Linked DNA regions of Homo sapiens: region 1 is linked to region 2. The links come from fine-mapping of genetic effects on gene expression. A gene starts in region 2. The other region holds a variant in brackets. All regions are shown on one strand. Distances are between the middles of the regions.

Region 1 (12,803 bases), 170 kb after region 2:
CCTACATATGCACGTGTGCACTTCCTGTTTTCATTCTTCCATGTCACTGTGCCTCGGTTCTGGGTACACAGATATTCAGAGTCTATATCCTATAGCTATGTAAACACTGTTCACAGCTGAACCATGCCCTTTCCACAAACACTTCTTCCCTGCACTGTTTGTTCCTTCTTTCCCCTCCACCACACTGAGTTCATTATGTCACATTTTAGCTGCTGTGTTTTTTTGCTATGTAACACTAGTTCAATCCTGAATGCTACCTTGAGATGTCAATCCTTTATCACATTCAAACATATTCCATTTTCTATTGGTTTTATTTCATATTATTTTGTTTTGTTTTATTTTGAGATAGGGTCTTGCTCTGTACCGGAGGCTGGAGTGCAGTGGTGCAATCACAGCTCACTGCAGCTTCAGCTTCCTGGGCTCCAAGCAGTCCTCCCACCTCAGCCCCCAGAATAGCTGGGACTACACATGCGTGCCACTACACCCGACTAATTTTTAAATTTTTTGTAGAGACAGGGTCTTGCAATGTTGCCCAGGCTGGTCTTGAATTCCTGAGCTCAAGTGATCTTCCTGCCTCAGCCTCCCAATGTGCTGGGATTACTGGCATCAGCCACCTCGCCCAGCTGCACCATGTATGCATTTCTAAACAGGCTTAGTTCCTGCCTGTTTTGGGCTTTATAAGAACGCACTCATGGCCAGACACAGTGGCTCACGCCTGTAATCCCAGCACTTTCAGAGGCCAAGGTGGATGGATCATGAGGTCAGAAGTTCGAGACCAGCCTGGCCAACATAGTGAAACCCTGTCTCTACTAAAAATACAAAAATTAGCCGGGCATGGTCTTGCACGCCTGTAGTCCCAGCTACTCTGGAGGCTGAGGCAGGAGAATCACTTGAACCCGGGAGGCAGAGGTTGTGGTGAGCCGAGATTGTGCCACTGCACTCCAGCCTGGGCAACAGAGCTAGACTCTGTCTCAAAAAAAAGAATGCACTCATTGTAGGCTGGGTGTGGTAGCTCACGCCTGCACGCCTGTAATCCCACACTTTGGGAGGCTGAGGCGGGTGGATCACCTGAGGTCAGGAGTTAGAGACTAGCCTGGCCAACATAGTGAAACCCCATCTCTACTAAAAATACAAAAATTGGCCAGGCGCACATCTGTAATCCCAGCACTTTGGGAGGCCAAGGCAGGCGGATCATCTGAGGTCAGGAGTTTGAGACCAGCCTGACCAACATGGAGAAACCCCGTCTCTACTAAAAGTACAAAAAATTAGCCGGGCGTGATGGCACAAGGCTGTAATCCCAGCTACTCGGGAGGCTGAGGCAGGAGAATTGCTTAAACCCAGAAGGTGGAGGTTGCGGTGAGCCGAGATTGCACCACTGCACTCCAGCTTGGGTGACAGAGCAAGACTCCGTCTCAAAAAAAAATAAATAAATAAAAAGTTAATTGTGATTGTGGTAGAATACACACAACATAAATGTACCTTTTTTTTTTTTTTTTTTTTTGAGACAGAGTCTCGCTTTCTTGGCCAGGCTGGAGTGCAGTGGCACGATCTCCACTCACTGCAGCCTCCATCTCCCAGGCTCAAGCAATTCTCCTGCCTCAGCCTCCCGAGTAGCTGGGATTACAGGTGTGTGCCACCACGTCCGGCTAATTTTTGTATTTGTAGTAGAGACAGGGTTTCACCATGCTGGCCTGGCTGGTCTGGAACTCCTGACCTCAGGTGATCCACCCACTTTGGCCTTCCAAAGTGCTGGGATTACAGATGTGCGCCTGGCCAATTTTTGTATTTTTAGTAGAGATGGGGTTTCACCATGTTGGCCAGGCTAGTCTCCAACTCCTGACCTCAGGTGATCCACCCGCCTCGGCCTCCCAAAGTACCATCTGAGCCATTTTTTAGTGTTCAGTTCAGTGGTGTTGAGTACATTCACACTGTGGTGCAACCAATCTCCAGAACTCTTCATCTTGCAAAACTGAAACTCTGAACCCACTAAACAACAACTCCCCTCTCTCCCCTCCCCTCAGCCCCTGGCAACCATCACTCTACTTTCTATCTCTATGACTCTGACTCCAGGTACCTCACATAAGTGGAATCATGCAGTATATGTCTTTTGGGGACAGGGTTATTTCACATAGTATAATGTCCTCAAAGTTCAGCCATGTTGTAGCATGTATCAAAATTTCCTATTTTAAAAAAAATTCTGAATAATATTCCACTGTATGTAGGTAGCACAGTTTGTTTATCCATTCACCCTTTCAGCCTCTGTCTTTATTATTATTATTATTATTTTGAGACAGTCTTGCTCTGTTGCCCAGACTGGAATGCAATGGCGAGATCTCAGCTCACTGCAACCTCCGCCTCCCGGGTTCCAGTGATTCTCCTGCCTTTGCCTCCTGAGTAGCTGGGATTACAGGTGCCCGCCACCATATGCCTGGCTAATTTTTGTATATTTAGTAGAGACGGGGTTTCACCATGTTGACCAGGCTGGTCTCGAACTCCTGACCTCATGACCCGCCCGCCTCGGCCTCCCAAAGTGCTGGGATTACAGGTGTGAGCCACCGCTCCCGAACCTGTCTTCTATATTGGATGCCTTCCTCAAACGTGGTGAATCTTGGGGGTCTGTGCATACTAAAGCTGGAGCTATTAAAAGCCTTTTAAAAGTTCCCCAGGCTGAGGGCACAGTGGCTCATGCCTGCAATCCCAGCACTTTGGGAGGCCAAGACAGGTGGATCTCTTGAGTCCAGGAGTTCAAGACCAGCCTGGGTAACATAACAAGACCTCATCGCTACAAAAAATAAAAAAATAAAGCTGACCATGGTGGCTCACGCCTGTAATCTCAGCACTTTGGGAGGCCAAGGCGGGCGGGTCATGAGGTCAGGAGTTCGAGATCTGTCTGGTCAACATGGTGAAACCCCATCTCCATTAAAAATACAAAAATTAGCCAGGCGTGGTGGTGGATGCCTGTAATCCCAACTACTCAGGAGGCTGAGGCAAGAGAATCACTTGAACAGGGAGGCAGAGGTTGCAGTGAGCTGAGATCGTGCCTCTGCACTTCAGCCGGGGCGACAGAGTAAGTCTCCATCTCAAAAAAAAATAAGAAAAAAAATAAATCAGGCACGGTGGTGCACACTTGTAGTCCCAGATACCAGGAAGGCTGAGGTGGGAGGACGATCGAGCCCACGAGTTTGAGGTTGCAGTGAGCTGTAATTGTGCTACTGCACTGCAGCCTGGGTGACAGAGTGAGACCCAATCTCAAAAACAAACAAACAAACAAAAAAAAAACCTCTCTCCACTGTGTGGCACTGTGTGCTAGGGGGTGACCTTGCTGGTGGCTTCCCAGGGAGCTCCTGATGTCAGTGTCTTCAGGACTTTCCTCTTGGCTTGATCACAGTCCCTTCAGAAGATTCTTCCAATTCCTGCCTGAAGGTGCCAATTTCTATGTCTTTTGTGGCTTCTGCAAAGAAAACCTAGCAATTTCTCATTTTTTCCAATGCCAGCTCGATTCCACTTCCTTGGTTCTAGTAAATTGGTTACCATGAGTCCCTCTATTAGTACCTGGCTTAAACATTTTTGTTCGTATTGTCTTCTTTCCTATTCTTACTCTTCCTGTGGGTGTGTGGCATTAGAAAGATTCTCTTACTGCCATTTTATTATGTTTGGGGCAAGAACAGAAGTAAATACATGTGTTTAGTCTACTATCTTTAACCTGATGCCTTTTAACTTTTTTTTTTTTTTGAGGTGGAGTTTTACTCTTGTCACCTAGGCTGGAGTGCAATGGTGTGATCTTGGCTCACTGCAACCTCTGCCTCCTGGGTTCAAGCGATTCTCCTGCCTCAGCCTCCCGAGTAGCTGGGGTTACAGGCGCCTGCCACCATGCCTGGCTAATTTTTTTTTTTTTTTTAGTAGAGACAGGGTTTCACCATGTTGGCCAGGCTGGTCTTGAACTCCTGGCCTCAGGTGATTTGCCCGCCTCGGCCTCCCAAGGTGCTGGGATTATAAGCGTGAGCCACTGTGCCTGGCCCCTTCTAACTTTTTAAAAGTAAACCTTGTCTTGGTTAGGCATGGTGGCTCATGTCTGTAATCACAAAATTTTGGGAGGCTAAGGCAGGAGGATTGCTTGAGGCCAGGAGTTAGAGACCAGCCTGGGCAACAGAGTGAGACTGTCTCTACATAAAATTTAAAAAAATAGCCAGGTGTGGTGGTACATGCCTATAGTCCCAGTGCTTTGGGAGGCCAAGGCAGGAGGATCACTTGAACCTAGGAATTCAAGGCCACAGTGAGCTGTGATTGCACCACTGCATTCCAGCCTGGGTAACAGAGCAAGACCCTGTCTTGAAGGAAAAAAAAAGAGTTGTCATATTCTTACCACATCATTATCCACATTATCCACAAAGCAAAGATATGGAATCAACCTAAGTATCTATCAATGGAGGAGTGGATAAATCAACTATGGTATGTATACAGAATGGAATACTATTTGACTATAAAACAGAATTAGGCTGGGCATGATGGCCCACACCTGTAATCCTAGCACATTGGGAGGCGAACACAGGTGGATTGCTTCAGCCCAGGAGTTCGAGACCAGCATGGCCAACATGGAGAAACCCCACCTCTACTGGAAAAAAAAAAAAATTAGCCAGGCGTGGTGGCAGGTGCCTATAATCCCTGCTACTTCAGAGACTGAGGCAAGAGAATTGCTTGAACCTGGGAAGCAGAGGTTGCACTGAGCCAAGATCACTGCACTCCAGCCTGGGCCACAGAGCAACACTCAGTCTCAAAAAAAAAAAAAAAAGTTTTAATATCTGATAGCAGAGTAGGGTGATTATAGTTGGCTGCAATGAATTGTATATTTCAAAGTAACTAGAAGAGAACTTGAATTACTCCCAACCCATAGGAATGAGAAATACTCAAGGTGATGAGTACCCCAGATACCCTGGCTTGATCATTACACATTCTATGCATGTAACAAATACTCTCATGGACCCCATAAGCATGGTGTATATATATATGACATATATGATATATCATATGCAACACATATTATATCATATATGATATAATATATGTGATATATCATATATGATATATAATATATGTGATATATCATATATCATATATAATATATGC[G/A]ATATATCATATATCATATATAATATATGTGATATATATCACATATAATATATGTGATATATTATGTATCACATATAATATATGTGATATATTATGTATCATATATAATATATGTGATATATTATGTATCATATATAATATATGTGGTATATTATGTATCATATATAATATATGTGGTATATGTGATATATATTATATATGATATGTGTGATATATTATATAATATATGTGATATATTATATATGTGAGATATATATAATATATATATTTCTTTTTTAGACAGCATCTTGTTCTGTTGCCCAGGCTGGAGTGCAATTGCACAATCTTGGCTCACTGCAACCTCCGCCTCCTGGTTTCAAGCAATTCTCCTGCCTTAGCCTCCCGAGTAGCTGGGATTACAGGCGACCGCCACCACACCCAGCTAATTTTAGTATTTTTAATAGAGATGGGGTTTCACCATATTGGTCAGGCTGGTTTTGAATTCCTGATGTTAGGTGATCCACCTGCTTTGGCCTCTCAAAGTGCTGGGATTACAGGTGTGAGCCACTGCGCCTGGCCTGGAATACATTATGTATCAATAAAAAAAAACAGGAGTTGTGTGGAGAACAATTGGAGCAGCAGATGGCAAAGAAGACCTTGAGGGCTGGGATAAGAAGACTGGATTTTCTGCTAGAAGGAATGAGAGCATTTTATCATGTTAGTCAGCTTCAGAGCCTTGCAGTAAAAACATTTGCACATTTGAATGTTGATGAAGACATTTACAAATATAGACAGGATGTGATAATTTGTACTTTTCCCTCATCCCCGGTTGGTGTGAGTGATGTCATTGATTGCACCAGTTAACAGGTGAAAAAATAGAAGTTTGGGATGTCAGGATTGTACCTGATGCTTGAGCATCATAGGTGGATGTGAAGGAAAAGGAAAACATGATCAAGGGCTGAGCAATCTGGGCCACAGGAATATCAAACTCATTTACCAATGTGTGCAGCCACCCTTAGGCTGCATGACAGATTGAGGACAGAGCTTATCTGGGCACTCATTAATTGAAAGGAGGAGATCAGTGAGAAGAAGTAGAGAAAACAAACTACTTGTCAGTTCAAACTTAATCACTTTGTTTTTTGAGACAGAGTCTCGCACTTTCGCCCAGGCTGGAGTGCAGTGGCATGATCTCGGCTCACTGCAAGCTCCGCCTCCCGGGTTCATGCCATTCTCCTGCCTCAGCCTCCTGAATAGCTGGGACTACAGGCACCCGCCACCACGCCCGGCTAATTTTTTGTATTTTTAGTAGAGACGGGGTTTCGCCGTGTTAACCAGGATGGTCTCGATCTCCTGACCCCGTGATCCCCCGACCTCGGCCTCCCAAAGTGCTAGGATTACAGGTGTGAGCCCCCGCGCCCGGTCTTTTTTTTTTTTTTTTTTTTGAGACAAAGTCTTGCTCTGTTGTCCAGGCTGGAGTGCAGTGGCATGATGTCAGCTCACTGCAACCTCTGCCTGTGGGGTTCAAGAGATTCTCCTGCCTCAGCCTCCCAAGTACCTGGGATTATAGGCACCCGCCACCACACCCGACTAATTTTTGTATTTTTAGTAGAGACAGGGTTTCACATGTTGGCCAGGCTGGTCTCCAACTCCTGACCTCAGGTGATCCACCTGCCTTGGCCTCCCAAAGTGCTGGGATTACAGGTGTGAGCCACCACGTCCAGCTTTTTTTTTTTTTTTTTGAGATGTAGTCTTGCTCTGTCACCCAGGCTGGAGTGCAGTGGCTCAATCTATGTTCACTGCAACCTCCGCCTCCTAGGTTCAAGTGATTCTCCTGCCTCAAACTCCTGAGTGGCTGGGATTACAGGTGCGTGACACCACGCCCAGCTAATTTTTGTATTTTTAGTAGAGAGAGGGTTTTACCATGTTGGCCAGGCTGGTCTCAAATTCCTGGCCTCAGGTGATCTGCCCGGCTCAGGCTCCCAAAGGGCTGCGAATCCAGGCGTGAGCCACCGTGCCCGGCCCGGTTTATATTTTAGAAGGGTAATACAGTAAGTTGACAGTAAGAGAGCCCTTATCTCTTTTCTTTTCCTTTTTTGTTCTCCTTTCATATTCCATCATTGAAAGGTAGGAACATACAGCATAACTTAAAATTAGGAACAGAGTTCACATATAACTTTTTTTTTTTTTTTTTTTGAGATGGAGTCTTGCTCTGTCACCAGGCTGGAGTGCAGTGGCGCAATCTTGGCTCACTGCAACCTCTGCCTCCCAGGTTCAAGCAATTCTTCTGCCTCAGCCTCTTGAGTAGCTGGGACTACAGGCACGTGCCACCACACCCAGCTAATTTTTTTTGTATTTTTAGTAGAGACGCGGTTTCATCATGTTGGTGAGGCTGGACTCGATCTCCTGATCTTGGGATCCACCCGCCTTGGCTTCCCAAAATGCTGGGATTACAGGCATGAACCACCACACCCAGCCACCTTTTTTTTTTTTTTCTTTTTCTTTTTGAAGACAGAATCTTGCTCTGTTGCCCAAGCTGGAGTGCAGTGGCGCAATCTCAGCTCAATGTAGCCCCCACCTCCTGGGTTCAAGTGAGTCTCCTGCCTCAGGCTCCCGAGCAGCTGGGATTACAGGCATCCGCCATCACACCTGGCTAATTTTTGTATTTTTAGTACAGACGAGGTTTCACCATGTTGGTCAGGCTGGTCTCGAACTCCTGACCTCAAGTGATCCGCCCGCCTCAGCCTCTCAAAGTGCTAGGATTACTGGTGTGAGCCACTGCGCCTGGCCCATATAACCTTTTTAAAAAATAACAGCTTTATTGGAATATAAAACATACACCATTAAGTTTACCCTTTCAAAGTGTACAGTTTGGTGGGTTTGGTTTTTAGTTGATTCACAAAGTTCATCTGTCACCACTATGTAATTCCAAAATATTTTCACCCCAGGAAGAAACTCTATACTAATTGGCAGCCACTCCCTGTCCCCTCCCTACTCCCCAAGTCCCTGGCAACCACTAATCTAATTATTGTCTCCATGGATTTGCCTATTCTGGACAGACCACATGTAAAGTTTTTGCTTAATCTGATTAATTGATAGGTTCCACTTTTACAGATAAATAGCTTTTCATGTCAGCAAAAATGAAAGATTTAAAATGTAGTACTAGGCTGGTCACAGTGGCTCACGCCTGTAATCCTAACACTTTGGGAGGCCAAGCTAGGTGGATCACTTGAGCTCAGGCATTCAACACCAGCTTGAGCAACATGGCAAAACCCGGTCTCTACAACAAATACAAAAAATTAGCCGGGTGTGGTGGTGCATGCCTGTGCTCTCAGCTCCCAGCTACTTGGGAAGCTGAGGTGGGAGGATCACTTGACCCTGGGAGGCAGAGATTGCAGTGAGCCAAGATCACACTACTGCATTCCAGCCTGGGCAACAGAGTGAGACCCCATCTCAAAAAAAAAAAAAATATATATATATATATATGTAGTACCTGACCTCCCCCAAAGTTATTTGAGGTTCAAATGATTTATTTCAGCCTCCACTTAACTAGAGCTGACCTCTTATTAGACACCTTGGGGACATTACTATGAGCCTTAAAGAAATAAAAAGTATTATAAAGGAATACAATAAATAGTTGTATGCCAATTAATTAAACAACTTAGAAAAATGGACAAAGTCCTAGAAAAACAAGAAAAACCTACCAAATTTCAGGAAGAAATGGAAATTCTGAATAGACATATAACAAGTAAATAGATTGAAGTAGTAATAAAAAACTTCCCACAGGTTGGCGTGGTGGCTCATGCCTGTAATCCCAGCACTTTGGGAGGCCGAGGTGGGCAGACCACGAGGTCAAGAGATCAAGACTATCCTGGCTAACACCGTAAAACCCCGTCTCTACTAAAAAAAAATTAGCCAGGCATTGTGGTGGGTGCCTGTAGTCCCAGCTACATGGGAAGCTGAGGCAGGAGAATGGTGTGAACCCAGGAGGTGGAGCTTGCAGTGAGATGAGATCGTGCCACTGCACTCCAGCCTGGGCAACAGAGCGAGACTCCCTCTCGAGAGAAAAAACAAAAACAAAAACAAAAACTTCCACAAAGGCTCATGCCCACAGGGCTTCACTGCTGTATTTAACTAAACATTTAGAGAAAAATTAATACCAGTTTTTCATAAACTCTTTCAAAAAATAGAAGAAGAGGCAACATTTCCCAACTCTTTTTATGAGGCCAGTATTACCCTGATGCCAAAGCCAGACATAAGAAAGGAAACTACAGATCAGTATTTCTTATTAATATAGAGGCAAAAATCTTCAAATACCAGCAGACAGAATCCAGCACCACATCAAAAGGACAGTACACCATGATCAAGTGCGAATGATCCCAGGAATGCAAGGCTGGTTCAATATCTGAAAATACATTAACTTAATACACCATAATTTTAGAATAAATGGAAAAAAGCAATTAATCATCTCAATAAATGCAGAAAAAAACTTTGACAAAATTCAACATTCTTTCGTAAGAAAAAAACCATGCAACAAACTACAAGTAAAAGACAACTTCCTCTACCTGATAAAGAGCATCTGTGAAAAACCCACAGCTGACATCATACTTAATGGTGAAAGTTCCTGACAGATCAAAATAAGACAAGGAAGTCCGCTCTTACCACTTTTATTCTGTATTGTACTGGAGATTCTAGCCAGGAAAATTAAGCAAGAAAGTGAAATAAAAGGCATCTAGATTGGAAAGAAAGAAGTGAAACTATCTATAGATTACATGATCTTGTATATAGAAAATATACAAGATCCAAGGCCGGGCGTGGTGGCTTATGCCTGTAATGCCAGCATTTGGGAGGCCAAAGTGGGCAGATCATTTGAGATCAGCAGTTTGAGACCAGCCTGGCAAACATGGTGAAACTCCGTCTCTACTAAAAATACAAAAAATTAGCTGGGCATGGTGGTGCACACCTGTAATCCCAGCTACTCAGAGTCTGAGGCAGGAGAATCCCTTGAAGCTGGTAGGCAGAGTTTGCAGTGAGCTGAGATCGTGCCACTGCACTCCAGCCTGGGTGACAGAGTCAGACTCTGTCTCAAACAAAACAAAACAAAAACAAAAAAAGAAAATATATAAGATCCTGTAAATCCTAAGGAACCCACTAAAAAATCAGAACTTTAATCGCCAGGGAAATGCAAATCAAAACCTCTGAAGAAAAAACACAAACTGTTTTTTTTCTTGGCTCTCACACCACAGTAACAATCACTACAGAAGTCTTCTGTGACCGGGCTGGGTGCGGTGGCTCACATCTGTAATCCCAGCACTTTGGGAGGCCAAGGTGGGTGGATCACGAGGTCAGGAGTTCAAGAACAGCCTGACCAACGTGGTGAAAACCTATCTCTACTAAAAACACAAAAAGAATAGCCAGGTGTGGTGGCAGGCACCTGTAATCCCAGCTACTGGGGAGGCTGAGGCAGGAGAAATGCTTGAACCAGGGAAGCAGAGGTTGCAGTGAGCAGAGATCACACCACTGAACTCCAGCCTGGGCAACAGAGTGAGACTTGGTCTCAAAAAAAAAAGAAAAGAAAAGGAAAAGAAAAAAGAAAAAAAAAAGAAGTCTTCTGTGACCAAATGTTGGGGGGAACTCCTGCCAACACCAAGCAAACAACCAATTCTCCAATGGACAATTCTGAATTGAGTGTCCTCCAATTCAATTCCAACACTATCTACCTGAAGATAGCATCAGATCCCACAAGTTGAGGGTTCAATCCCACAAGACTGCACCCCTACACACACCAGAACTTCTGACCGACTGGCTTCAAATTGGGGTTTCCATGATTCCCTCTTTTTTTTTTTTTTTTTTTTTTTTTTTTGAGACAGAGTCTCCTCTGCCACCCATGCTGGAGTGCAGTGGCAGAGATCTCAGCTCACTGCAAGCTCCGCCTCCCAGGTTCATGCCGTTCTCCTGCCTCAGCCTCCTGAGTAGCTGGGACTACAGGTGCATGCCACAACGCCCAGCTAATTTTTTGTATTTTTAGTAGAGATGGGGTTTCACTGTGTTAGCCAGAGATGGTTTCGATCTCCTGACCTCGTGATCCGTCCGCCTCGGCCTTCCAAAGTGCTGGGGTTACAGGCATGAGCCACCATGTCTGGCACAGCTCTCTCTTTAGTGAGAGTGGGGACTTCTGAGAGGAAAAGACCAGCAGGTGGGGGATGTGCCATATTTTATAGTCAGATTTGAGGATGTGGTGCCTGATTTACATAGGACTCACAGATTGGTTTGATCAAGAGTGATATTACATAGCATGCAGGGAAGGCTGGCTGCCTCACCCTAATCATATTATGCAAATGAACTTTCCCCTTGGCCTTCGCCATCTTGTCTGCTCTTTACTGTACACGTGGCTGACAAAGAGAAGGGAAGATGGAGCCACCATCTTGAACATGATTGGCACAACTGCCAACATCTATGTCTGCAGCTCGATTTTACAGGCTACTCTTCGTTAGAAAGGAAAATAATTTGGGGCTGCTTTTCATTAAAAGGAGAACCTTACCAAAGACTTCTGTACCCTTACTATCTGCCTAAGTAATTTCTTCTTAACTCCTGTATGACCTCCACATGGTCAGCTATCCGGAAGCTCCCTAAGCCCTGTCCTTTTGGCCTTTTATGGAGACTTAATTGGATAGGCATGACTCAAGCATGGACAAATGTGTAGAAAGGTGATTGGTCAAAAAGGGCACGATCTAATACTAATACCCTGAATGGGGAACCCCAGCAAGGCCCTTGTGTTCAGCAACTCCTTGGCCTCTCTGTGCAGCTTTCCTTCCTCCAGGGTATGGGCAGGAGTCCTACCGAAATGAAGGTGTCATCAACTACACTCAGACAAGGTATGTCAGAGAGTTTCTTTATGGCCAATTTCAATACAGAAAGGTAGGGGAAGATTCCTGCCTTGGTGAGAAAAAGAAGCAGGTGAAAGGAGAGCAGGAGAAGGTCAAACAGAGAGAGAGAGTTTTTTTTTTTTTTTTTGAGACGGATTCTTGCTCTGTTGCTCAGGCTAGAGTGCAGTGATCTCCGCTCACACTAACCTCCGCCTCCCAGGTTCAAGCGATTCTCCTGCTTCAGCCTCCTAACTGGGACTACAGGCGCCCGCCACCACACCTGGCTAATTTTTGTATTTGTAGTAAAGACGGGGTTTCACCATGTTGGCCAGGCTGGTCTTGAACTCCCGACCTCGTGATTCACCCACCTTGGCCTCCCAAAGAGCTGGGATTACAGGCATGAGCCACCACACCCAGCCAAGAGATTCTTTTTTCAATGAGGCCTGCTTCAGAGGATTGCAGCACTCCAGCATTCTAGCAAGAGCTATGGGAGCTGTGAACCAGGAACTGTGGACAAAATCTAGATGTATATATATATATATCACCAAATCACAATGAGGTGCTGCCTCATACCTGTTACGATGGCCACTATAGAAAACAAAAACAAAAAACACCAAAACCAGAAAATACGTGTGGCAAGAATGAGAGCGAATTGGAAACCCCGTGCACTGTTGGTGGGAATGTAAAATGGTACAGCTAATGTGGAAAACTGTGTGAAAGTTCCTCAAAATATTAAAAATAGAACTACCATATGATCCAGCAGTCCCACTTTTGGGTATTTATTTATTTATTTATTTATTTATTTATTTATTTATTTTTGAGACGGAGCTTCGCTCT
Region 2 (12,803 bases):
CCCAACATTTTGGGAGGTCAGGGTAGCAGGATGGCTTGAGCCCAGGAGTTTGAGTCCAGCCCGGGCAATACAGTGATACCCTGTCTCTACAAAAAAATTTTTTTAAATTAGCCAGGTAGGTGGCACACACTTGTAGCCCTGCCTACTCAGGAGACTGAGGTGGGAGGATCACTTGAGCCTAGGAGGTTGAGGCTCCCGTGAGCTGGGATCGTGCCACTGCACTCCAACCTGCACGACAAAGTGAGACCCCATCTCAAAAAAATAAAGAAAGAAAGAAAATACAAGAAAAGGGCCGGGCACGGTGGCTCACGCCTGTAATCCCAGCACTTTGGGAGGCCAAGGCGGGCGGATCACGAGGTCAGGAGATCAAGACCATCCTGGCTACCACAGTGAAACCCCGTCTCTACTAAAAATACAAAAAATTAGCTGGGCCTGGTGGTGGGCACCTGTAGTCCCAGCTACTCGGGAGACTGAGGCAGGAGAATGGTGTGAACCCGGGAGGCGGAGCTTGCAGTGAGCCGAGATTGCGCCACTGCACTCCAGCCTGGGTGATAGAGCGAGACTCCGCCTCAAAAAAAAAAAAAGAAAATACAAGAAAAGAAGCGTGAAGACAGAGGCTCCCGCGTCACCTCTCATTTTCTTCCATTTTCTCTTCTGTGCCTTTCACAGGATCTTCTGCAGGACAACTGGTCCTTATCACAGCCAGGGTGACCACAGAAAGGACTGCAGGAACCTGCCTATATTTTAGTGCTGTTCCAGGAATCCTACCCTCCAGCCAGCCACCCATATCCTGCTCAGAGGAGGGGGCTGGAAATGCCACCCTGAGCCCTAGAATGGGTGAGGAATGTGTTAGTGTCTGGAGCCATGAAGGCCTTGTGCTGACCAAGCTGCTCACCTCGGTAAGAGCCTCAGATGGGTCGCCAGGGTTTTGTAGACTGCCTGCTGACTACTGTATCTTGAAGGTCCCTGGAAACAATTCTACCTTGTAGAAAAAGCACAGGTTTTATAACCCTGCCTTGGGGGCTGTGTGACGTAGAACAAGTGTCTAAACATCTCTGAGTGTCAGCATCCTCATCTGTAAAACAGAAAACATGACCCTATCTCTTAATTCCATCAAATAAGGATTAAATGAGAATGACCGTGAAGTGCCCAGCACATTGCCTGGGACATAGAGATTTGATAAGTGACAGCTATTGTTGTTTACTATTGTCTTTAAAACATTCTCTCTACTTCAAAGGAGTTCAGAAGCTATAATAAGAGGCAAATGGGCTAATTGCTATTAGAGAGATGTGAGCAAAGTGTTATGCAAACACAGAGAAAGGAGCCATTAACCCTAACTTGAACATTTATGGAGAGTGCATCACAGAGAAGGTGGCATTTACCAGAGAGCATTGTGCACAGTGGTTTATAATGCACAAAGTGCTCTCAGGGTTCATTAATTCATTTGATCTTAAAATAGCCTTTTGAGGTAGGTGTTATTATCCCATTTTACAGATGAGGAAACAGGTTTAGAGAAAGGGAGTGAATTGCTGCAGGCCACACAACTGGTTAAGTGGCAGAGCCAGGGTTGCAACCCACACCTTCTGTCAAGTCAGAATGATCCTTGAAGAATGAGGAAGATTTGGACAGGGACTGCAGTAGAGGAGGTTCAGGAGAGGGGGAGGTACACTCCAGGCAAAGGCACCAGCATGCGCACAGGCCTAGAGATTGAAAAGTGTTCAGCCAGGTGTCACATCTGTAATCCCAGCACTTTGGAAGGCCGAAGCAAGGAGAATGCCTGAGGCCAGGAGTTCCAGACCAGCCTGGAGAACATAGCAAGACCTCGTTTCTTTTTCGCTTTTTTTTTTTTTTTTTTTTTTGAGACGGAGTCTCACTCTGTTACCCAGGCTGGGGTGCAGTGGCACAATCTCGGCTCACTGCAAGCTCCACCTCACAGGTTCATGCCATTCTCCTGCCTCAGGCTCCCGAGTAGCTGGGACTACAGGCGCCTGCCACCATGCCCGGCTAATTTTTGTATTTTTAGTAGAGACAGGGTTTCACCTTGTTAGCCAGGATGATCTCAATCTCCTGACCTCGTGATCCACCCACCTCAGCCTCCCAAAGTGCTGGGATTACAGGTGTGAGCCACTGCGCCTGGCGACCCCATTTCTTAAAAAAAACATTTTTTTTTTTAATTAGCAGGGTGTGGTGGTACACACCTATAGTCCCAGCTACTCAGGAGGCTGAGGTGGGAGGATCCTTTGATCCCAGGAGTTTGAGGCTGCAGTGAGCCATGATTGTGCCACTGCACTCCAGCCTGGTTGCCAGAGTGAGACCCTGTCTCAAGAAGGAAAAAAAAAGAAAGTGTTCAGCCTTTGGGAGCACTCCATGTTGAGAGGCTTAGGAAGGAGAAAAGGCAAGAGAGACCACAGGGATTTGATGGAGAGGCTCTGTGAATGCAGGATAGAGGGCTATGACCTGATGCTGAAGGCCGTGGGGGCCACTGAGGAGTTTTAAGGAGGAGAGAGATGTGCTTCCCTGGTGCTGGGTGGAGAATGGCTGAGTGGAGGAGGGCCATCAGTCAGGAGGCTGCTGCACACTCCACTCTCACATTTGAAAATACCCCATGAGGCACGGTGGCTCACGCCTGTAATCCCAGCACTTTGGGAGGCCAAGGCCGGTGGATCACTTGAGGTCAGGACCAGCCTGGCCAACATGGTGAAACCCCATCTCTACTAAAAATTTAAAAATTAGCTGGATGTTGTGGCGGGCGTCTGTGATCCCAGCTACTCAGGAGGCTGAGGCAGGAGAATCTCTGGAACCTGGGAGGCAGAGGTTGTAGTGAGCTGAGATCATGCCACTGCACTCCAGCCTGGGCAACAGAGTGAGACTCCGTCTCAAATAAAGAAAAAAAGAAAAGACCCCATGAGGAGCACAACCTGGGACTTGGAATCAGAGATCTGGTTTCCAGATCTAGCACTGCTTGCACTTTTTTTTTTTTTTTTTTTGAGATGGAGTCTTGCTCTATCGCCCAGGCGGGAGTGCAGTGGCGCAATCTCAGCTTACTGCAAGCTCCGCCTCCCAGGTTCACGCCATTCTCCTGCCTCAGCCTCCCAAGTAGCTGGGACTACAGGCGCCCGCCACCATGCCCGGCTAAGTTTTTGTATTTTTAGTAGAGATGGGGTTTCACTGTGTTAGCCAGGATGGTCTCAATCTCCTGACCTCGTGATCCACCCACCTCGGCCTCTCAAAGTGCTGGGATTACAGGTGTGAGCCACCGCACCCAGCCACTTATACATCTTTAAACTGTGGATCATAATGAAGTTTCCTATCTCATGGAGTTATGATGGGGTTTCAGGTTGATAATTGGGCAAGAAAGTAGTTTTTAAACCATCAAGACAAATGTTCGAGCCTGGGCAACATGGTGAAACCCCATCTCTACAAAAAAACACACAAAAAATTAGCTGGGCGTGGTGGCACACACCTGTGGTCCCAGCTACTCAGGAGGCTGAGGTGGGAAGATCGCTGGAGCCCAGGAGGCGGAGGTTGCAGTGAGCCGAGATTGCACTACTGCACTCCAGCCTGAGTTACAGAGTGAGACCCTGCCTCAAAAAGAAAAAAAAAAAAAAGGGCCAGGCGCGGTGTTTCACGCCTGTAATCCCAGCACTTTGGGAGGCCGAGGTGGGCGGATCATGAGGTCAGGAGATCAAGACCATCCTGGCTAACACGGTGAAACCCCGTCTCTACTAAAAATACAAAAAATGAGCCAGGCGTGGTGGCGGGCACCTGTAGTCCCAGCTACTTGGGAGGCTGAGGCAGGAGAATGGCGTGAACCCAGGAGGCGGAGCTTGCAGTGAGCTGAGATCGCGCCACTGCACTCTAGCCTGGGCGACAGAGCAAGACTCCATCTCAAAAAAAAAAAAAAAAGACAAATGTCAGCTTATATGAAAATAACATTTTCCCTTCAGTTGCTCCCTAGATGTGGAGAGCCCTCTCCCTCATGGAGGCTCCTTCTATAGCCCTTGGACTGGATTAACATGTCCTCCTCCTCCTCTCCCTGTACCCCTCCCTAGGAGGAGCTGGCTCTGTGTGGCTCCAGGCTGCTGGTCTTGGGCTCCTTCCTGCTTCTCTTCTGTGGCCTTCTCTGCTGTGTCACTGCTATGTGCTTCCACCCGCGCCGGGAGTCCCACTGGTCTAGAACCCGGCTCTGAGGGCACTGGCCTAGTTCCCGACTTGTTTCTCAGGTGAGGTTCTTTGCTCCAGTCCTGCGGGAGCAGGGAATGGGGTGGGGGTGGGGGTTGTAACCGGGGTAGAGCAGATCCTTGGACTTTTCCTCAAAGACTGCTGCTTCTGAGTCCCCGAGAACCTCTTCAACCACAGCTCTCCCTTAGGGACTGGGAACAATTTGACACCGTCAGCATTCAATATTTTTCTAATTACTTTAACTTTTTTATTATAAAATAGTTAACACTTATGTAGAAAAGTCCAATAGTATAAAAGGACAGCTTGGCAAATTATTATAAAGTGGATACTTATAAATACCACTGAGTAGAATATTACCAGCTGTCCAGAAACCCCCCATGGTCCCTTCCTTCCTGACAATGCCCTCTCTCTCCCTAGAAATTACTGTCCTGCTTTATAATGTATTGCCATGTATGTATTCCTAAATAATATAGTTTGGTTTTACTTATTTTTGAAACTATGTAGACAGAATCATACACATTCTTTTGTGGCTGACTTCTTTCAAGCAACATTGTGATTTTAAGACTCATAACTAGTTCACATCCAAGCATTTGGGTAACAATGGTGAGTTAAGAGGGTTCACATTTGATGATTTGTCCTGAATATGAACCATGTTTGTCTTGCTTTTGTCCTGAAATTCCAATACCCAGTTTTATGATGGAAATTTTGTAAAATTCAACTTGAACCGCTCAGAAGAGTCTAACTGATGATACTCATTTACTGGGGACATAGTATGTGCCCAAGAACTTGACATGCACCTTCTGTCTTCCATTTAGTCATCGTTACCTTTAGAAAAAGCTGATTCCGTTAACAAGATCTTTGGAGGGAATCAGCTTCACAAACGTAGCAGTGGGTGGGGGTCATGTTGGTTAACCAGTTCACACATCAGCTCACTAAAGGAAAAAATATTTCTGCAAAAAATCTTCACTTGTCAGAGGGGGGTGCATGAAATTTGAGAGCCATGTGTTATGCATCCAGCTCTTGAACTGGTCTCAGCTTCAGCTGGCTGCAGTGCCCTAGGAAGTTACTATGGGAAAAGTGGAAATAGTTGAGGCCCAGGGAACTGATCAGGCCAGAGGAAGTGGAAGCTCAAGATCAACTGTGCTTATTTTGCTGATGGCTGGGCCTAAATGCCCCAACCACCTACTTGGGACAGGAAATGACAGGACCCTCTCAACCTTGGACTGGGAAAGGAGGGCTTCCTGGCCCCTGACAGACCCTGGGGTCCTGAGGCTACCTTAGTTGGGATTAAATGCCCGTATTGGTCTCTAGCTGTCACTCCCTCTGCTCCTTCCTCAATTTCTGCACACATCTCAGAGCTTCCTCTAGCAGCTCTTCGACCTGTTTTGTTGTTTTATTTTCTTTCTCCCCAGGTGTGAATCAACTTCTTGGGCCTTGGCTCTGAGTTGGAAAAGGTTTTAGAAAAAGTGAAGAGCTGGAATGTGGGGGAAAATAAAAAGCTTTTTTGCCCAGTGGCGTGTATGGTGTTTATTGGGGGTTGGATTGAGGTGGGGATTTTAGGGTAGGCAGGCTTAGAAGTTTTGGGGGACTCTTTCCTGTTGACTCTCTAGTTTGGACACAGGTTGGCATAGGGCATAGGTTACTTGAGCTCTCCCCATGGTTGACTTGGCTTTGGTAAACACCTGTCTTGTTTTCTTCTACGAAATAAAATGGATAATTACAGTTAGTTGGGCGGGTGGGGTGTCAGGTCATGGAAATGCTGTGACATAAATGCACTGTGACCTTGGCAAGTCTTGCAACCTGCAGCGCCTCAATTTCCGTAAGAGATTTGACCGATTGAGTTTTCCCAGCGTCGACGCGCAAAGATTCCTCGCACTTGGAGGCCCTTTTCCAGGTTAGATGGTTGCTAACCTCGGAGCAGTCTATTTTCCCGCCTTTTCCGCGCCCAGCAGCAGCTTCCTTTGCCCCTCCCAACTTCCACCCTGCGCGCAGTCGCAGATCGCCGCTGCTGTCCGTCCACCCGCGCCCCCTCAAAGCTTCCCCTAGCAACAAGCTCGGGCTCAGAGCGAAGGCGGGGCGAGCGCATGCGCTGCAGCTCTGTCCACCGCCAGTCGTGGGACAGAGTGCCGGGCTCCTCCCCTTGCAAGTCTAGCTCTTCTCCCCGCCTCCTCCGGCCTGGGGTCCGCGTGGCGGGGCGGGCGCGCACTCGGGCTTGGCGGCTGCCGGTCTCCCAGGCCGCGGCAGTGAGGAGAGAGGGCGGGGCTGAGTCCTCTGCGCCCCCGCCCCCTTTAGCCCGGCGTCCCTACCGCGCCTGCGCGCTCCCGCCCGGTCTCCATCTTGGAATTGGGAGGAAGAGGGAGAGGGAGACCGGGACGAGACCGGGGCTGTGGTGCGGAGAGAGGCTGAGACGGAGAAGAGGAGAGGCAGAGAGGGCGCGGGGACCGTCAGCAGCACCTTAGCTACAATCGTTCAGCTATTCTCGGAAGAGAGAAGGGAGAGGGAGGAGGCCGGGGCGGGAGTGGGGGCTGTCACCCTCGGACCCCGGCGTGAGAGGGGCCGTGCGGCCGGACGTCCTCGGGGTGGGCCCCCAGTCGGTGGCCGAAGACCTACAGCTCAGGCCCCTGGGTCCCAAATTTCCAGGCTTTGCCCCTCCTCCTTTCTCAGATACCCGGGTAACAGTCCTCATAGTCCAGATATCCGGGACTCGGGTCCCAACCTCTCTAAACCTGGGTCTCTGTTTCATAGAATTTCAAATATCAGGTTCAGGCCCCTGCGTGCACCAGTATCCGGGGTTCATTCCCCGGGCGTTCAAATATCGGATTCAGTCTCCATCCCGTTCAGATATTCGGGGTTCAGACCCCACAATCAGAAATCCGGAATTCGGCAGCTGTCGCCCTCGACGAGGGGGAGGACTGGACCGCGAGGTCAGATTAGGTTGTCACCCCCTCCCCTCCAGGGGAGGCTTCCCGGGCCCGCCCCTCAGGAAGGGCGAAAGCCGAGGAAGAGGTGGCAAGGGGAAAGGTCTCCTTGCCCCTCTCCCTGCTTGGCAGAGCCGCTGGAGGACCCCAGGCGGAAGCGGAGGCGCTGGGGCACCATAGTGACCCCTACCAGGTGAGACACGGGGTGCAGGGGCGCGGGTCCCTGTGTCTAGTTCTGAGAAGAAAGGGTGCGCCTTTCTGAGAAGCTGGACTTGGGTAGGCCCTCTCAGGATGGGGAAGCCCAGCTGAGCGAGTGGTCAGCCTCTGGCTAGCCTTGCCTTCTGTTGCCACCCCCTTCCCCTTCCTCTTCCCTTCATTGTGTCTGGTTGGTGGGGGACCTCAGGTGACAGGGTCTCTGATGTCACCGGCGTTCACACCCTAGGGTGCTTCAGCTAATCAGATGGATTTGCACTTCAGTCTTCTCTCCTTCACTTTGCCCCTCACAGCCACCTCTCCTCCCTGATATGTCCCGTTCTCCTGGCTATTCTGTGGTTTTGATTCCCATGCCTCTGATTCCCATGGTGGGTCTGCTTATCTGCTTTTCAGGCCTGGTCTGGTTGGATTTCTTGTCCTTGCAAGGAAGTGTGTGTATATGTGTTTGTGTGTATGCGTGTGTGTGTGTGCTTGGAGGTGCCTGGCAATGTTTTCCCCCAGCTGCAGTTACCTTCCAACCTCTTGCTGTGATGGTGTCAATAATCTCATCCATTTGTCAAACGATCTGTCTTTTACAAAGTGCTTTGACAGCCATTCTCTCATGTGACATCCCCGCATTCACCCTGTGGGGGCCTCTTTTATTGGCATCTTCCCATTTTACAGTTGAGAACGTTGAGGCCGAGAGAGGTTGCCCAAGGTCACACAGTGGCAGAACCAGAATTTGAACTCAAGTCCTCAATCACATCTTTCCCTGATGCATGCCTGGTTCTTGCCATCTCTTTTCCTCTGAGTTTGGGCTCGGCCAGGGGTCCCTAGGAGTCCAGGCTGGGGTGAGGTTTAAGAATGGGGATGAGATGAGCTTCCTTTCCAGGAGGGCTCTACTCAGAAGCTTTTCCTGATGGGAGCCTCTGGCTTTTGCCTCTGCCTCATGGAGTTTTCTATCCACTGTGACCTTCATCTTTACCCCAATCCCAGGGTTTGGCCTGGATTCCTGAGAGGGCTCTCTCCTGACAAATGGTAGCACTAGTGGCATCTTTTAACTGTTCAAGCCAAGCTGTTGGGGTAGAATGATCCCCCAAAGGATTAAAGCTTTGTGGGGACCTTGGAGGCAGGGAAGGAAAAATCCATATGCTGAGTGTCTGCATGGTGTTCCTAAGTATGAGATCTCATTAAAATCTTAACAACAGCTCCATGCTGTAATCCATTTCACTGAAGAGAAGACCAAGAACTGGAAGGAACTTATTTAAAGCCCTGTTGCTGTACATTGCAGACGGGATGTACTGGTAGCATAGCTTAGGAACAGATAGATACGGGTTTCCTCATCTGTAGAATGGAGATAACATTGTTCGTTTTGGAAGGTGGTTATGATTTAGCACAGACCTTGGTTATTGTTCAAGTGTTTGTTGTTATTATGGGGAAGGGGACCTGCATGATGTTTTGCCAGTGGGTGGCACCCCTCCGTGTGGCCTAGGTTAGCATTCTGGGGCCTTGTGTTGGTAAAGAGGTCAGGAAGATTCCTTTGGCAAGTTGAGAGCACCTGCCTTTGTGTGTGGGTGTGTGGTGCTGGTGAGGGGTGCTTGGCACTGTTGCTGGCAGAAGGGAGAAAAGGGCCGGCTTTGAGCAACCTGCGAGCTGCTGAGGGCTGAGCAGAGAGCAATCACTCAGTCTCCCAGGCTATTCTGAGCCCTCTGCACCCTGGGGGCCCACTGGAGAGTCAGGCTCCCTCCTTGCCCTCCAGCTTCCAGTTGGGCTGAGACAAAATTAACAACACAACAGGAAACAATGCATGACAGAATAAATTACATGCTAAAATTGTTAGGTGCTTTTGAGTAGCTAGAACTCTGCCCCAGGAGTCCAGCTCTGCTGAAGGCTCCTTTGTGCCTAAATTCTGACAAGTGCTTAGGCTGGAGCCTGTCTTGGAATCTCCTTGAGGGTTTTGGTTCTGGTATCCTGCAGGAACTTTCTCCGGGTGTTTGGTTGGGTGCCCTAGGTGCTCTTCCCAATGGCTGGAGTGGTCAGGACAGGCTTCCTGCAAGAGGGGAGCTGAGCTTGGGGTGACAGCTGAGAGAGTAATGGATACAGGCCTAACCGGGGAGCCGAAGGTCCTGTTCTCTGACCTTGGAGAAGTCCTTTTTCTTCTCTGTGCCTCAGTGACCTCACCTAGGAAATGGTGATCATGATTCTGCCCTGCCTGTTTCGAAGGGCTGCTCTGAAATCATAGTGATGGAGGACCAGCTTTGGACAAGGCACTTAACCTTGCTGAGCCTGTTTCTTTATCTGTAAGATAGGGGAAATCATAGTACTTGCTTCATAAGGTTGTAGTGAGGACTGAATAGAGATAATGCACGTAAGGTACTCAGTAAATGTTATTTGTACCCTGCAAATGTCCTGTACCTGTGTGTGATGCTTATGCAGTTGGACAGGACAAGTAAGGTGGCCCAGAGCACAGAGAGGCCCTCATAGCCAGATGCCATTTATATCCCTATTCTTCCCATTCTAGATCTCCCCCTGACTTTTTTGAGAGTGACTTTGCGGGCTCCTCTGGGCCAGTACCCACTTCTAACAATGGACGGATTTCCACCGCCTCCGGCCTGGCCATTTCCTGTTCTCTTCCAGGGTGTGAGAGGTTGAGGGAGGAGGGGGCCTCAGCGCCAAGGGGAACAGAAAGGTGCCTGGAAACAGTTGGGGTATAGGACTTATGGGACAGGACACTTGGGGCTCTGGAGTGCTGGCTGGGAAGCAGAATGTTTTATCCTTGAGGGGAGATACAGGGGCTATAGGGAAATGAGAACTTGTTGAGCACTGAAGGGGGTGGTGAGGATACTTAGCTTCCCAGAATCTTCCTAGCAGTTTTAGGGACTCCAGGGACCCAGCCCGCGTGATCTGGTTGCCAGGGCAACTTCATTTTTTGGAGCTTTGATGTTGTTCCTAATCTCCCCCTCCCCTTCCTCAGCAGTGCCTCCTCCTCATCAGGGAATGAGGGGAGGAGATGGCAGAAACTTGATGGGTCCCTTCCTCTCCCTGAAGGCTCAATCCTTGATCTCTAAGGGTCCCATTTCCATTCCTCAGGCCAGGCCCCACTCTCAGGGCCCCCAGGGGCCACCATGCCAGCTGGGGGCCGGGCCGGGAGCCTGAAGGACCCAGATGTGGCTGAGCTCTTCTTCAAGGATGACCCAGAAAAGCTCTTCTCTGACCTCCGGGAAATTGGCCATGGCAGCTTTGGAGCCGTATACTTTGTGAGTTGGGTCTTGGGAGGGTGTAATAGGGATGGGGACTCTTCCTATCCCTGTGGACTTCCCAACAGCCCTTGCACACTACTCCATCACACTGGTCTTTCCTGCCTTCTCTTGCTGGGCCAGCAAGTCTTCCCATGCCCGGCTCTCAATGGGGCCTTCAACACCTTCTGGTCTGGTCCTCTAGGCCCGGGATGTCCGGAATAGTGAGGTGGTGGCCATCAAGAAGATGTCCTACAGTGGGAAGCAGTCCAATGAGGTGGGCCAGGTGCAATACAGCCAGGTTGGGGACAGGGGACTCCTGTCTCAAGATGCAAGCTGGGTAACCTCTGCCTACCCTGACCCCCTAGAAATGGCAAGACATCATCAAGGAGGTGCGGTTCTTACAGAAGCTCCGGCATCCCAACACCATTCAGTACCGGGGCTGTTACCTGAGGGAGCACACGGCTTGGGTGAGCTGGTGCCAGATTCTGGCCTGATCTTTACTCCTATTCATGCCCGTCCTTATCGTAGTCCAGTCTCTTAGGTGGTCCCTGTTCGTGGTGCTGTTGTGGGATCTTGGGAAGGAGGAAGTCTCTTTTGACCGCTTTAGTCCTCAGACATACCCACTGAGCAAAAGCCTGGCTCAGTGACACAGGCTGTTAGCAGGTGGGACAGGTCACTGTGGGCTGGAGAAGGTGGAGATTGAATGGGAGTTTGAAGGGATTCAGATGGGCAGTGGTGAATGTCTTGGGCCCAGACTCTAGAAACTCTCCCACCACCCCCTCATTGTCTCCAGTTGCGCTTCCTCCCTGTCATCACCCCGGGGACATAGCTTGAGTACAGGACAGTCAAGGAAGCTCTGTTTTGAGTCCCTGCCCAGGAGACTCTGATCTCTGACCCTTGTCTCTTCCTTAGCTGGTAATGGAGTATTGCCTGGGCTCAGCTTCTGACCTTCTAGAAGGTAAGTGACTGATAGGCCAATAAGTGGAGAAGGGAGAAGAGCAGGGGAGCCATAGGGAAGGGTTAAGGGGAGTTTATTCCAGTCCCACCCTTGCGCTCCCTCGGGTTGATGTTCTTCCTCACTCTCCAGTGCACAAGAAACCCCTTCAGGAGGTAGAGATCGCAGCTGTGACCCACGGGGCGCTTCAGGGCCTGGCATATCTGCACTCCCACAACATGATCCATAGGTACAAGCAGCACCGGCAGTGCCTGGGAGGGGAGTGCTATCTGCACCACCTGTCACTTAGCTGGGCTGCCCCTGCCTAGCTTTCTTGAGACACATGTCTCATCCCTGTACTTTGCCTCTGGCAGGGATGTGAAGGCTGGAAACATCCTGCTGTCAGAGCCAGGGTTAGTGAAGCTAGGGGACTTTGGTTCTGCGTCCATCATGGCACCTGCCAACTCCTTCGTGGGCACCCCATACTGGTGAGTGAGTGAGTGGTGGTGAGTGGAGAGACCTCCCAGGGATGTTGGGAGTAGGAGTGACAGGGTCTCGGCGGGTGATTTGCCTCTCTCTCCTGACCATTCTCCTAGGATGGCACCCGAGGTGATCCTGGCCATGGATGAGGGGCAGTACGATGGCAAAGTGGACGTCTGGTCCTTGGGGATAACCTGCATCGAGCTGGGTAAGAACATCCTCCCTGTTCCCTCATCATCTTTTCCATTCTTTCCTGTTAGTTCCCAGACTCCGGACTACCCCCTTCTCCTAGGGATGGGATCCCAGGCCTCCAAGTTCCTGTCCGTTGTGACTCTACCCTGGAGCCCAATACAGGCAGCTGGCAAATTCTGCCAGCTCTTAGGCCTAGAGATTTTGTAGCATTCATCTCTTCCTGTCCACTACCCTGGTTCTGAATCTTTTCTTAGTGCCCACCATGTGCTGTGCCATGGACTGTGATTCTGGAGGGATAGCAGTGAATGAAAATCCTGCCCTCATGGAACTTACATTTGATTTAGGGAAACCAGGCAGGCATGTTTTCTTTCAATGTGATGAACGCTGTGTGGAGAAGTTACAGGAGCGGTTCAAATGTAAAACAGGGGACTTGACCTAGTTTAGGGGCTGAAGAAGGCCTCCTTGTAGGAGAATATTGAAGCCAACCTGCAAGATAAATAATAGCTGTTTGCAGAATGTAGGGAAGAGCTTTCCAGGCAGAGAGAACAGCATGTGAGAGGCCTAGAGGTAAGTGCAGGCCTGGGGAACTGGGACTAGCTTCAGTTATTTGGAACCTAGCATGTAATGCAGAGAATATTGAAGGATAAGGCCAGAGAGTTAGGTCCA

Which allele goes with the higher level. Alleles are on the strand shown, and positions count from the first base shown. SD is a standard deviation of normalised expression in the study named.
For the expression in monocytes of the gene that starts at base 6,513 in region 2, allele A in region 1 goes with a higher level than allele G (moderate effect, 0.72 SD a copy in Schmiedel 2018).

The links. PIP is the estimated chance that this variant, and not a neighbour inherited with it, causes the effect.
Region 1: its variant is fine-mapped to the expression of TAOK2 in monocytes (Schmiedel 2018, PIP 0.95).

What each region holds. Positions count from the first base shown.
Region 1 is chr16:30,139,953-30,152,755 of GRCh38, forward strand. No RefSeq gene overlaps it. Among named protein-coding and RNA genes, the nearest start is that of MAPK3, 23 kb to the left of the region's middle. The variant G/A (reference allele first, on the strand shown) is at 5,125.
Region 2 is chr16:29,967,356-29,980,158 of GRCh38, forward strand. TAOK2 (TAO kinase 2) reads left to right here and starts at 6,513. Exons shown (of 16, transcript NM_016151.4): 1 at 6,513-7,293; 2 at 10,383-10,549; 3 at 10,734-10,805; 4 at 10,897-10,998; 5 at 11,444-11,489; 6 at 11,619-11,715; 7 at 11,840-11,953; 8 at 12,062-12,153. The coding sequence starts at 10,418. It overlaps TMEM219 (transmembrane protein 219), which reads left to right. Exons shown (of 6, transcript NM_001083613.2): 4 at 670-899; 5 at 4,053-4,223; 6 at 5,595-5,693. The coding sequence ends at 4,190. It overlaps LOC124903762, which reads left to right and starts at 6,267. Exons shown (of 2, transcript XM_047435036.1): 1 at 6,267-6,425; 2 at 6,642-7,280. The coding sequence starts at 6,267. The coding sequence ends at 7,280. RefSeq lists a silencer at 6,203-6,572 and enhancers at 6,996-7,767, 7,474-7,603, 8,405-8,906, 8,907-9,406.